Linked DNA regions of Homo sapiens. The protein of the gene in region 1 interacts with the protein of each later gene in a pairwise test. Each region holds a gene or a part of one and is shown on either strand. Other genes may lie near its edges.

Region 1 (5,681 bases):
AGGAGGCCTGGCCTGAGCCAGGTTGGAGCTTAAATTGCTGTTGGCTCCTGCCTGGTGGAACAAGGGGGTCATAGAAACCAGGGCTGATGGGCACCCCCCAGCCCCTGGGAGCTCTGCTCATGACCGCTCACAGGGTACCGAGTCTTTGCCTTTTGTGTGTGCGCATGCTGCCCTCTTAACTGCTTTTAGTATTCAGAAAGGTTCCATTTATGTTTTACTCCTGAAAGTGAAACCCTCTTAGGCAACTTGTTTCATATTCTGGGCATTTTAGTAGCTACAGTATTTTGCATTTAAAATGTAATTACTCTTAGTATTGTACAGCCCTATAATGTATGAGAACTAGTTTCACATCCTTTGAAACTAATCTCTTTCATTGGGGAGGATACAACTTTTGACTTTACACAGGTGGACTTTGAATCCATTTTTATAGAATTTTTTTCCACTGTAACTTGACCTATATTATGCAAGAAAATCCCAAAAATATGTTTTAAGGGAGACTACACAGACCTTGTGATTTGGTCTGAGCTAGTTGCTGAGTTGACTGGAGCCTTATTTGAATGGATCTTTGAGTTGAGATCTTCACACTGTCAGTGAGCCCTTGGCTCAGCCCTTGTCACCTGTTTGTATGGGGACCATGTTTCCCAAAGCTCAGGTTCATCTCCACTATTGACAGAGTCGGGTAGTGGGAGAGTATAAGTGACTTGAGACAGAGTGTCCTTGCTCAGAAAACTGTGAAGCAGGGGTCTTGTTAGTTACAAAGCCAGTCCTAGTTGCATGTCCAAGGGGGTAGATTTTCATCACCCTACTAAATGTGGTATGTCACTGCTGAAGCCTTTTCCTGTTTTAGTAATATCTTAGGCACTATTGTCTTTTGTCTTCCAGAGTAACATATCTGGGCCCACCTTTCTTGCACACTGTGATTATGTGCTAAGAAAAGGGTGGAGTTGGGAGGACAATTTCACTTGAACAGGTTTCTGTTCTTCTGAGGTCAGGGTGGGGAGGATGTCCAGGTGACTTTTATGGACACATTGCAAGACAGTAAGCCGCGGATGGACTCTCACTTGTGCTTTGGAACACTGGACTCCAAAGAGCAGGTGGAACAAACTCTGGCCTGAAGATGATGGCTAATACTCAGGCAGAGCCCCGTATTCTTCCCTGACTTGGTCAAAACAAACTTCCTTTTCCCTTGATCACCCTGCACGCAGCTGCCCAGCTTCCAGTTTTTAAAGAGATGAACAGCTCTCACTTCCTGACTCAGTTTCTCTTGTTGGGTGGGGGCCTTGTGCCACAACCTGCATGGGGTGCTAGGGTTTAAACCAAGTGGTCACGAAGGATTCTTATCTCAGGGCTCTGCCTGGCCCACCTTCTCTTGGGCCTGGACTCTCCTTATCCACATCCCTGCAGAAGGTGGGCCCTATTCTCAGAAGAGTCCTGGCTGCTGTTGCCATCTGAATGCGCCCTTCCCTTTCAGGTTGACCAGCAGTGGCCTTACCTGGCCTCTCAGGTGGATGGAGGCTGTTCTCATCTGGGGCTGTCTCTTGATTAAGGCTGTCACCTGTTTGTATAGGGACCATGTTTCCCAACGCACTTTGAGTGCAGTTTAGGAGGTATCCTTTGGATGCTGAAGTGTTGGGATTTTGAGGACATGCGGATGATTTATGAGAATAGAGGGGCAGAGTTTGTGAAGTCTAGGGTTTTTTGTCCAGTGGGTTTCAAATTTGTTGGCTGTTTAAAGACCCTGTCTCCTCCCCCACCCTCCCCTTCCTTTTCCCATCAAATGCCTACCTACTGAGGCGCCTTCTCTTTTTATTCTTGAGCCAATGAGATATCAGTGTGTTTATTAATAAGGATTGCAATAGTATAGTGCTTAATATGTGCCAGGCATAGTGCTAAGGGTTTACATACGTTATCCCTTTTAATCCAGAAAACAGCCTTTGATTAGGTATTGTTGTCTCCATTTTATAGATGAGGAAACTGAGGCAGTATGACTGAGGCCGAGAGCAGTGGTTAAGACAGACTTTGGGATCAAATCACCCTAGGTGCGGGCAGGTTTCTAGGCTGCTCTAAGCTTCTACCTTGAAGGCAGTTGGGTCTGATAATAGTACCTTCTTCCTGGGGTGGTTGTGAGGATATAACGAGGTAATGCATGTAAGCATTTAGTACCATGCCTGGCACATAGTAAGCACTCAATAAATGGTAGTTACTTTTGTTGAGCTCAGCTGGTAGTTTGACCTCCGTTGGTGCAATGCCAGAGATGGGATTGTCAGCCACCACACTGCCACCACCCTGCACACAGTCTGGGTCCCTCCGAGAGAAGCACGCCAACCTTAACATCCCCTACAGCATCTTGGTGCTTCACACACCATTTAGGAGGCCACCCTAACGAGGCAAGAGGACATGGGGGTGTGCAGAAGTTCTGTTCTTAGTGAGAATGGCTGGCCTGAGAATCCAGCTCACCTCCTCTGCCCACAGTCTGGACTGCTTGTGGGAAGGCCATCTCCTCCTGTCTGGTGGTACCTCCACTCTGGGCAGGGAGGGCCTGTCTGTGACTCGCTCTGGACCCCACTTCCCGCTCTGGCCAAGGGCTGTCTTCTGTGCACATAGCTCAGGAGCCTGCAGCAGTTCCCTGTATGGGTGGATGTCCTCAGGGGCCAAGAAGAGAAGAATGGGGACAACAGAAACCTGCTTTGTAGGGGATTATGTAGACTAAAAGCCTAGAAGTTCTGCCCACATCCTTATGACGCAGCCAATCTGGAGCTTCATGTTTCCTTCTAAAAGTAGTAACCGGGTAGAAGTGGGTGACCCATTGAGGACACATGATGTGAGGTATTTCTGCCGGATTCTAGGTTAGCAAAGACTCAAATGGGTGACTCATGAATGAAGGGAGAACAGGCACAGGACTTAATGAAAAGAGTTTCTTGAACTTAGTTTTCTGAATGGGGGTGGGGAGTTGGGGCACGTGTGTGTAAGGGGAGGCTGCCTCACTTTGAAGGAATGGTGTTGGCTAACAGGATCCATGAAATTCCTAGGTCAGTTGAATAATAACTGAACTACTGGTTTGACTGTGGATTATTTCCTGGGTATTAGTGGGACCCAACAGCACATTGCTATTAATAGTATGGAAATAATGGTCCCTCTGTTTCATTGAATTGCTGAAGTAATGATAATGCCATGAACCAGGAGAAGATGGTTGTGGGGGTTTCTAGGAAGCAGCTGCTGTGACAGGCCAATCCCAGGCTTGCCCCCGAGCCCTCCTGTCCTTCTGGGTTTGTGTTTGCCTTGCCTGGTGCTTCCTCCCTCATTGTGTTGTTGAATAGACCTAGGCAGCCTTGTATCCATAGAAAGCCTCCACTGCTGGGCCGGGGAGGGGGTTGTGGTAAGGGCCCTCTGGAAATCAAGCAGAGAATGCCTTTGCAGTGGTCTCCCGGGCATTGGGCAGGGCCTAGCCTTTTGCAGCCCCCAGAGGACCTTGCCTGCATAAAGCACTCAGAAGGGTTAGCCACCTGGTGATTTTGTCTCTAGTGAAACTGTGTTTGCCGATAATCATCCACATAGCCACCTCTGTCCTCGCAGTTTGGATGCCTTTTTTTGACACCTGCGCTAGGTTCTTGTATGCTGGCTTTTCTTAAAGGAACAGCAGAGTAGAAAAGAGGTTGAGAATGTTTTCTAGCAGGCAGAATGTGCATACATGTTTTCATGAGTGTCCTTTGGGTGCTGTTTCTTTTAAATCCTCTGTGCACAGGGCTCTGGCCTTTAGTAAACTGTTTTTCTGTCTTACGTCATGCTGACTGGGTGCTAGGGGCTGATTACAAAGGGGAAGAGTTGAACAGACATCAGGGGCCGATGAAACCAAAGGACTAGGAGTCAGGAGAACAAGTCAGGGATTAGGAGACAGCGGTTTGGTTTATTGTTATCCAGCTGGAGGACTCCTAGGGGCAGCAGCAGGAGGAATACCAGGGCCACGGAGGGGCCAGGAGTCTCACAGTGGAGGGCAGACTCTAACAGATGCCAGCTGAACGCTCGCTGGCCCTGGATGTCATACGAGTTGGGGACCAGAAATCTGGGCTCAGAGAACCCGTCCAGGGAGATTTGAAGCCATGGGTTATCTTCTAGAGTTGATACTGATAATATATTTTAATTTTTATTGATGTTTAATACCTTCTGAAACAGGAGGGTAAGATCAGATGGGAAGCCCCTCTGTTGAAGGATCTTGGGAACCTTGGTGGTTTTTTTTTTTTTTTTGGTTTTTTTTTTTTGATCGAGCTGTGGACATCCTTCTTAATTCGATTCTGAGGATTTGTTTAACTAAAAAGTTCCCAAACACAGAAAGGGCCTCCCCACCTGCTTTGGGGAGCTGTCTGTGCTGGGAGTGCCAGGCATCCCATGGGACCCATCACTGCCAGTGTCTGTGCCTCCCAGAGGTCAGCCGTGTCTGCCCTGGCTCTGTCTCCTCTGTGACAGGGCAGAGCATTTCTGGTCAGTTTCTCCATGGTGCCTCCCACCCCTTTGTAAAGTGGATGGACATGATGGAATTCAGTTGTCTCACCCTGATAGCCTGGGTGTTGATATTCACTTTACCCGCACTCAGACACAGGCGACCTTGAAGCAGTTCTCGGTGTGTAGAGTCCACGTGACAGTCCCCACAGCCTCCCCAGATAGCTGTGTGCCTGTGCGCTACTGCTGTGCCATTTTCCCAACTTGGCGTTTCACTAAATGCAGCTGATCTCTCTCTCTGTGCACTCGTGATCCATGTTGAACAATACATGTAGGTTCTTTTTCCACGCAATGTAAGAACATGATATACTGTACGTTGGAAAGCATTTACCTTATTTATATACCTGAATGTTCCTACTACACAAATAAACATATATTAAATTCTAGATCATGTGTGGTTTTCGATGGTGGGGGTGGCGGAAGGCCAGGGGTGTGGACGTTTGGTTGCTTATGTGGAGCCAGCATTATTTCCCAGGATGCTGCTGACCACCGCTTGCTTCTAGAGACTCCCTCTGTCCTTGGCCTTGGCAACCTGCCCCCCCGGCTTTCCTCCTGCCCTTGGTTGCTCCTCCTCGGTCTTCTTTCTGGGTGTCTCTTTTCTGGGCCATCCCTTGGGTGGTGGCATTCTGCCTGAGGCTCTCTTTCGCCCACTGAATTCTCCCCTCTAGGTGTTCCCACCCCCTCCCAGGATCCTGATCACCACACTCATTTCAACACTTCCCAAGTCCATGTCTCTAGCCCAAGTGGGCCTGCATTTCCAGCTGCCTGTGAGGCCTCTCACACAGACTTTGCATGATAAAACCCAAACCTATGACCCATGTCCTGAGTCCTGTGTTCTCTAACTACCCATGTGTTCTGTCACACAAGCCAGTAACTGGAGTGATCTCATCAGTCACCCAAGCCTGCCCGTTCTGCCTTCCAAACATCCTCGGAATCATCCTTACTGCCAGCCTTCTGGGCCAGGCCCCATCTCCTGCCAGGATTTCTAAGGCAGCCTCTAGCCCTCTCCCTACAGCCTGGCCACCTCTCTAATCCATTTCTTGCATGATAGCTGGGATGAGCTCTCTGCTTGGAACCCTTTGGGTCTTGAGGTTAAAGTTCAGACTTGGTAACGAGGCTTCTGGGGCCATCTGTGAGCTGGCCAGTGCCTGACCCACGCATTCGGGCCCTGCCTTCACAGCCACAGC
Region 2 (4,757 bases), on another chromosome or scaffold:
GTCTCTACCAAACATACAAAATTAGCCGGGGATGGTGGCGCATGCCTATAATCCCAGCTACTCGGGAGTCTGAGGCAGAAGAACCGCTTGAACCCGGGAGGCAGAGGTTGTGGTGAGCCGAGATCGCGCCATCGCACTCTAGCCTGGGCAACAAGAGTGAAACTCCATCTCAAAAAAATAAAAATAAAATAAGTAAGTAATACCTAAAATTCTGCAACCTTCATTTTACTATAGATGGTTGAAGATTATATTACTTCTTAATTGTTTTAGCCTTGTTATTGCTTCATTACTTCATGGTTGTTGAGTACAGATGCTCAGTAATCATAACCTATGAAATATTTGACACCATGATCTAAACATTAAAAACAAATAACTGTGCTATTGCCACAGCTATGTTTTGGCTTTGAATTTTCTTTACTGAATATTTTGGATCAAGAACACTAGATGAGAAACCTGTTCAACTCTGTTCTTTTTTTTTTTTTTAACTCCACTGTATTTATTACCTGTTTTTGTTTTTTTTGTTTGTTTGTTTTTGATGTGCATATAGACCAAGATGTGGTAAATTTAAATGGCAGATGTTTTTGATGTGGTACATTTAAGGGAGAGAAAGCAGTTTAAAGAGCAGGGTGAAAAATCCAACAAGACTCCATCGAGAGTTTCTGAGCTCTCCCATCAGGGGCCAGTCCTCCTTTCCTCTCTCCTCTTACTCCCATGATTTCCAAGTTGTGATCCTTTCCTTATTTCTGAGGAATGACTTGGTTTCTCCTCTTCTTTTTTTGGCCTGAGAGAAGATGTTTTTGCACTTGTAGCTATGAGGAACAGATTGTCCACTAGGGAGGCCAGCTGATCATTTTCTGCCAGAGTCACACAGAGCAGTCACACCTTATTTTGAAAACCACTGTCTGGGGTCTTTGTCCTCACATATGCAGGTCTAGTGTCCCCACAAAGTGATCAGATGGATATATAAAGTGGAGTGCCAATGTATTAATTTACTGTGAGAAACACAATTGCTAAGTGGGTCAGATATCTGTCTCAGCTGGTCAGTACACCTTCCAGCAGGAAAATCTACATAAGAACAACTAAATCACAATCTGTAGAGTGCTTGATGACCCCAGAATTGGTGCAAGGGGACACATTCTTGCTTGTTAGCACCTGCTCTCTGGAGTTTGCTATTTTCTCACACACAGTGTATTAGTTCACAGAATGTTCTCCAAGGAGGACAGGGGGCTTTGCCCATAGCCATGTGCTGTGGGCAGCAGAGCTAGGAAGAAGCACAGGCATCTCCCAGCCCAGGTGTTTCCCACTTAACTGCATTGCCCTTTTCATCTTTTTTTTTTCCCCAATAGCTTCAGGACATTCAGTACATTGTGCTTTTTAGAGGTTGATGATTCCACTGCCTGAGCTGCCTTCACCTCTCTTTCTTTGGAAATTGCCATCTTTGAGCATTGTATGTCTCTGTAACATCTCTGCATCTCCTTTTCACTCTGGCCTCCCTTTCTCCATTGTCCTTCTAGCTTCTGGTTGCCCCAAACCCCACAGACTGTGTAACAAAACCCAAAACCTATTGGTTTAAAACAATACCCATTTTATTTTCTTTCATAGTTTCTATGGGTCAGGAATTTGGATATGGCTTGGGTAAGCAGTTCTGGCTTCTCATGGAGTTGGAGGCAAGTGGTGGCTGGAACAGAAATGGGGCAGCCAGGGGTGGTGGCCAGGCATCAGCTACATCTCCTCCATGTAGTCTCAGGAACTCTCCATGTAATCTCTCTGTGTGGGTTGGGCTTCCTCACAACATGGTGGCCTCAGGGCAGTCACTGCTTACATGGCAGCTAGCTTCCCTCAGAGTGAGTATCCCAAGAGATCACAGTCAAAGTGCATAGCATTTATATAATCTAATCTTGGAAGTCACAAAATGTCATTCTTGTGATACTCTCATTGGTGAAGAAGTCATAAAATCCTGCTCAGGTTCAAAAAGAGGGTGTATAGAACCCAACACTCAATAGGAAGATTGTCAGAGTTACATTGTAAGAAGAGCATGTAGTTGGGAGATATCATTGTGGCCATTTTGGGAAAGATGCAACATGTCACAATGTCATGTTCTCCATCGTCTCCCCGTTCCACCTTGTACTGGTTTCCAAGGGTAGTCGTTTAAAAGTACCACAAAAACTGGGTGGCTTGGAACAACAGAAATTTATTGTTTCACAGTTCTGGAGGCCAGAAGTTCAAAATGAAGTGTTGGCAGAAACATGCTGCCTCTAAAGGGACTGGGAAAGGATCTGTTCCAGGCTTCCCTCCTATCTTCTGGTTGTTCCTTGCCTTCTGGCTGCGTAACTCTAGTCTTCATTTGGTGTTCTCCCTGCATGCATGGCTTTGTGTCCAAATTTCCTTTTTTCATGAGGCCATCAGTCATACTGGATTAGGGACCCACTCTACTACTGCAGGATGACCTCACCTTCCCAAATTACATCTGCAACAACCCTATTTCCAAAGAAGGCCACATTCTGAGGTACTGGGGGTTATAACTTCAACATGAATTTTTTGGAGGAAACAATTCAACTCCTAACACATCTCTACCCAACCTCTGTAGGTTCCCTCAATCCACCAAAATTTTTTGGCTCCACTGGATTATCTAGCAGTTAGGAAACCAAGATCATTAAATGAATTCACCGCAACTACAGTGAGACTGACTACCTTAGCTTACCTCTGTGAAAGGAGTTAAGCCAAAGGAATCTGTGGAATTTTGGAGAGTTTGGGAGCATTTGGGGGCAGGAGGCAAATGTTCTTCCTTTAAATCACAACACTTAGTTCTCTTCCATTTATAAGACTCACCCCTCCATCCCAACCCCTGCACCACAGGACAAGGAAGTGTTCTTGGTCTTCAACTTTCATCCCTGATGGTGAAAGCAGTTGCTCCTGACCTATTTGCCCACCAGCTTCTCCTCTGGAGCCTGAGGCTTCTGATGCCTGCCTGGCTGGTTCTCAGTAAGAAGGTCAAGTTCAACCAGAGGGGAGATGCTGATGCCTTTCAGTACTTAAATATGAGTTCAGACCCTGGGGCCTGGACATAAGATTTGGGGTCCCCTGGATATAAGATTTCTGAAAACACTCAGACTGTGGAGACCCCTGCTGAGGGAGAAGCCCCAAACTGTGGCTTCAGGGGAATGCACCAAGGCTCTCATTGAGGCCACCTTCTCCAACAAGCTCCCCTCCTGCTTCCCCATGGCTGGCATGGCTGAGGAAAAAGGACACTGAGCACAGCCCGTGCATGAGCGGCTTGCCATGCAACAGGATAAAACCCATAATGCCACTCAGCAAGCCTTGGTTGTAAATCTAGTTTGATTACATTTGTAATCAAATGATGGCCATTTGTTCTGTTTCTGGTTTGTGAACCAACTGAAGACATAAGCAGGGCCTCAGCTAACCCACAAATAGCACATGTGTGCAAACTGGAAAAATGAACCCTTCTTCTGGGAGGACGCCAGCCCAGGCCAGGTCACCCGGCTTGGCCAGCAGAACACAGAGTAGATTTTGGTCCCGTTTGTTCCCCAGTGGGGTATCTATCCTTGTGCAGGGCACAAGCCTACATGGTGGCTCTGGTCATATCATTAGAAAATAGACAGAAATGGGCTGCACACCAGAATGAATGAATTGAATTGAAAGGGAGGAGTGATGGTGGAAAAAAAAACAAGTCAATTCATTTAGACTGGTAGAACCAGAACCACTGTGTAGTACATCCAAACGGTTAAAATTCCCTGGAAGATGTTACATAATCCTATCATGGTGTTTATTTATGGAAATCTATTTTAAAAATTTTATGTAATACTGCACAGTCTGTTTGCATGATGCCTTGTACGTAGTAGCAACTCAGTAAATACTTTTTGAATGAACTAGTATAGTATTTTAATTAGCTAGTCTTCATGTACTGGTACAAAAGAACAGTGTCATCTTACAGCTGAAGTCATAGAGGGGAAATATCCCACTCAAGATCATATAACATTCCAGGTACTCAGGATGAATGGTTTGAGGACTGGTCTGAATTCTTCAAAGGTTTCAGCTGTATTAACATTCTCCATCTAATAAACTTTATCTTGTCATTGCATTGTCTGTGAGATTAGTGATCTGAAACATTCCATCAATACCCCCACCCCACCCAACACATACATATTAAAGACAAAGATAGAATTCGGAGGTTCTTATGGGAGGTACTGTTTTTCTCGAAGGCTATGAGAAGAGGTGCTGAGAAATGAGTTCTCAGCCATCTTGGGGGCCCAAATATCTGAAACCTTCCAGAAATGTAACTAGTCTGAATTTGCTTTTCTGTCACCATTTGGGTATTTGGTTAATGAAAGTTCTTAACATGCAAATTCCACCCACTCTTACCAATGCCCTGAGCTGGGAAGCACCCTGAGCACTCTTACCACACCCTGAGCTGTTGCTTTTCCTCTCCGCCTTGCCCCCACTCCGTGTTGGCTGCACCAGCAGAGGCTTCTGCATTTGCCCCTGGGCGGGAGTTGGGTATGAAGGTCTGGGCCAGAAGGTTCTGAGTCCCTAAGCTGAGCTGCTGGGTGGCAGCTGGAAGGTCAGGCTGGCTGAAGCCCTGGCGAGGTGACACTGGGTCTGAGGCAGGTGCAGTGGCAGCGGCCAGACCTCTGAGGACACAAATGGGCTAGAGTGTGGGAACAACCGGGGAAACAACCCGGGGGTGGGAAGGGAGTAGGAAGGGGGGAAACAGCTTCTGAGAGGAGGCTACAGGATGA

The links.
Region 2: the proteins of CDS2 (region 1) and MR1 interact in binary tests that used the Homo sapiens proteins (3 or more experiments, as listed by UniProt).

The regions. Positions count from the first base shown.
Region 1 is NC_000020.11:5,193,008-5,198,688, forward strand, and holds the end of CDS2 (phosphatidate cytidylyltransferase 2), read left to right. Parts: 3' UTR 1-4,880; downstream 4,881-5,681. UniProt on the Homo sapiens protein: Catalyzes the conversion of phosphatidic acid (PA) to CDP-diacylglycerol (CDP-DAG), an essential intermediate in the synthesis of phosphatidylglycerol, cardiolipin and phosphatidylinositol.
Region 2 is NC_000001.11:181,057,840-181,062,596, forward strand, and holds the end of MR1 (major histocompatibility complex class I-related protein 1 isoform 1 precursor), read left to right. Parts: 3' UTR 1-4,099; downstream 4,100-4,757. UniProt on the Homo sapiens protein: Antigen-presenting molecule specialized in displaying microbial pyrimidine-based metabolites to alpha-beta T cell receptors (TCR) on innate-type mucosal-associated invariant T (MAIT) cells.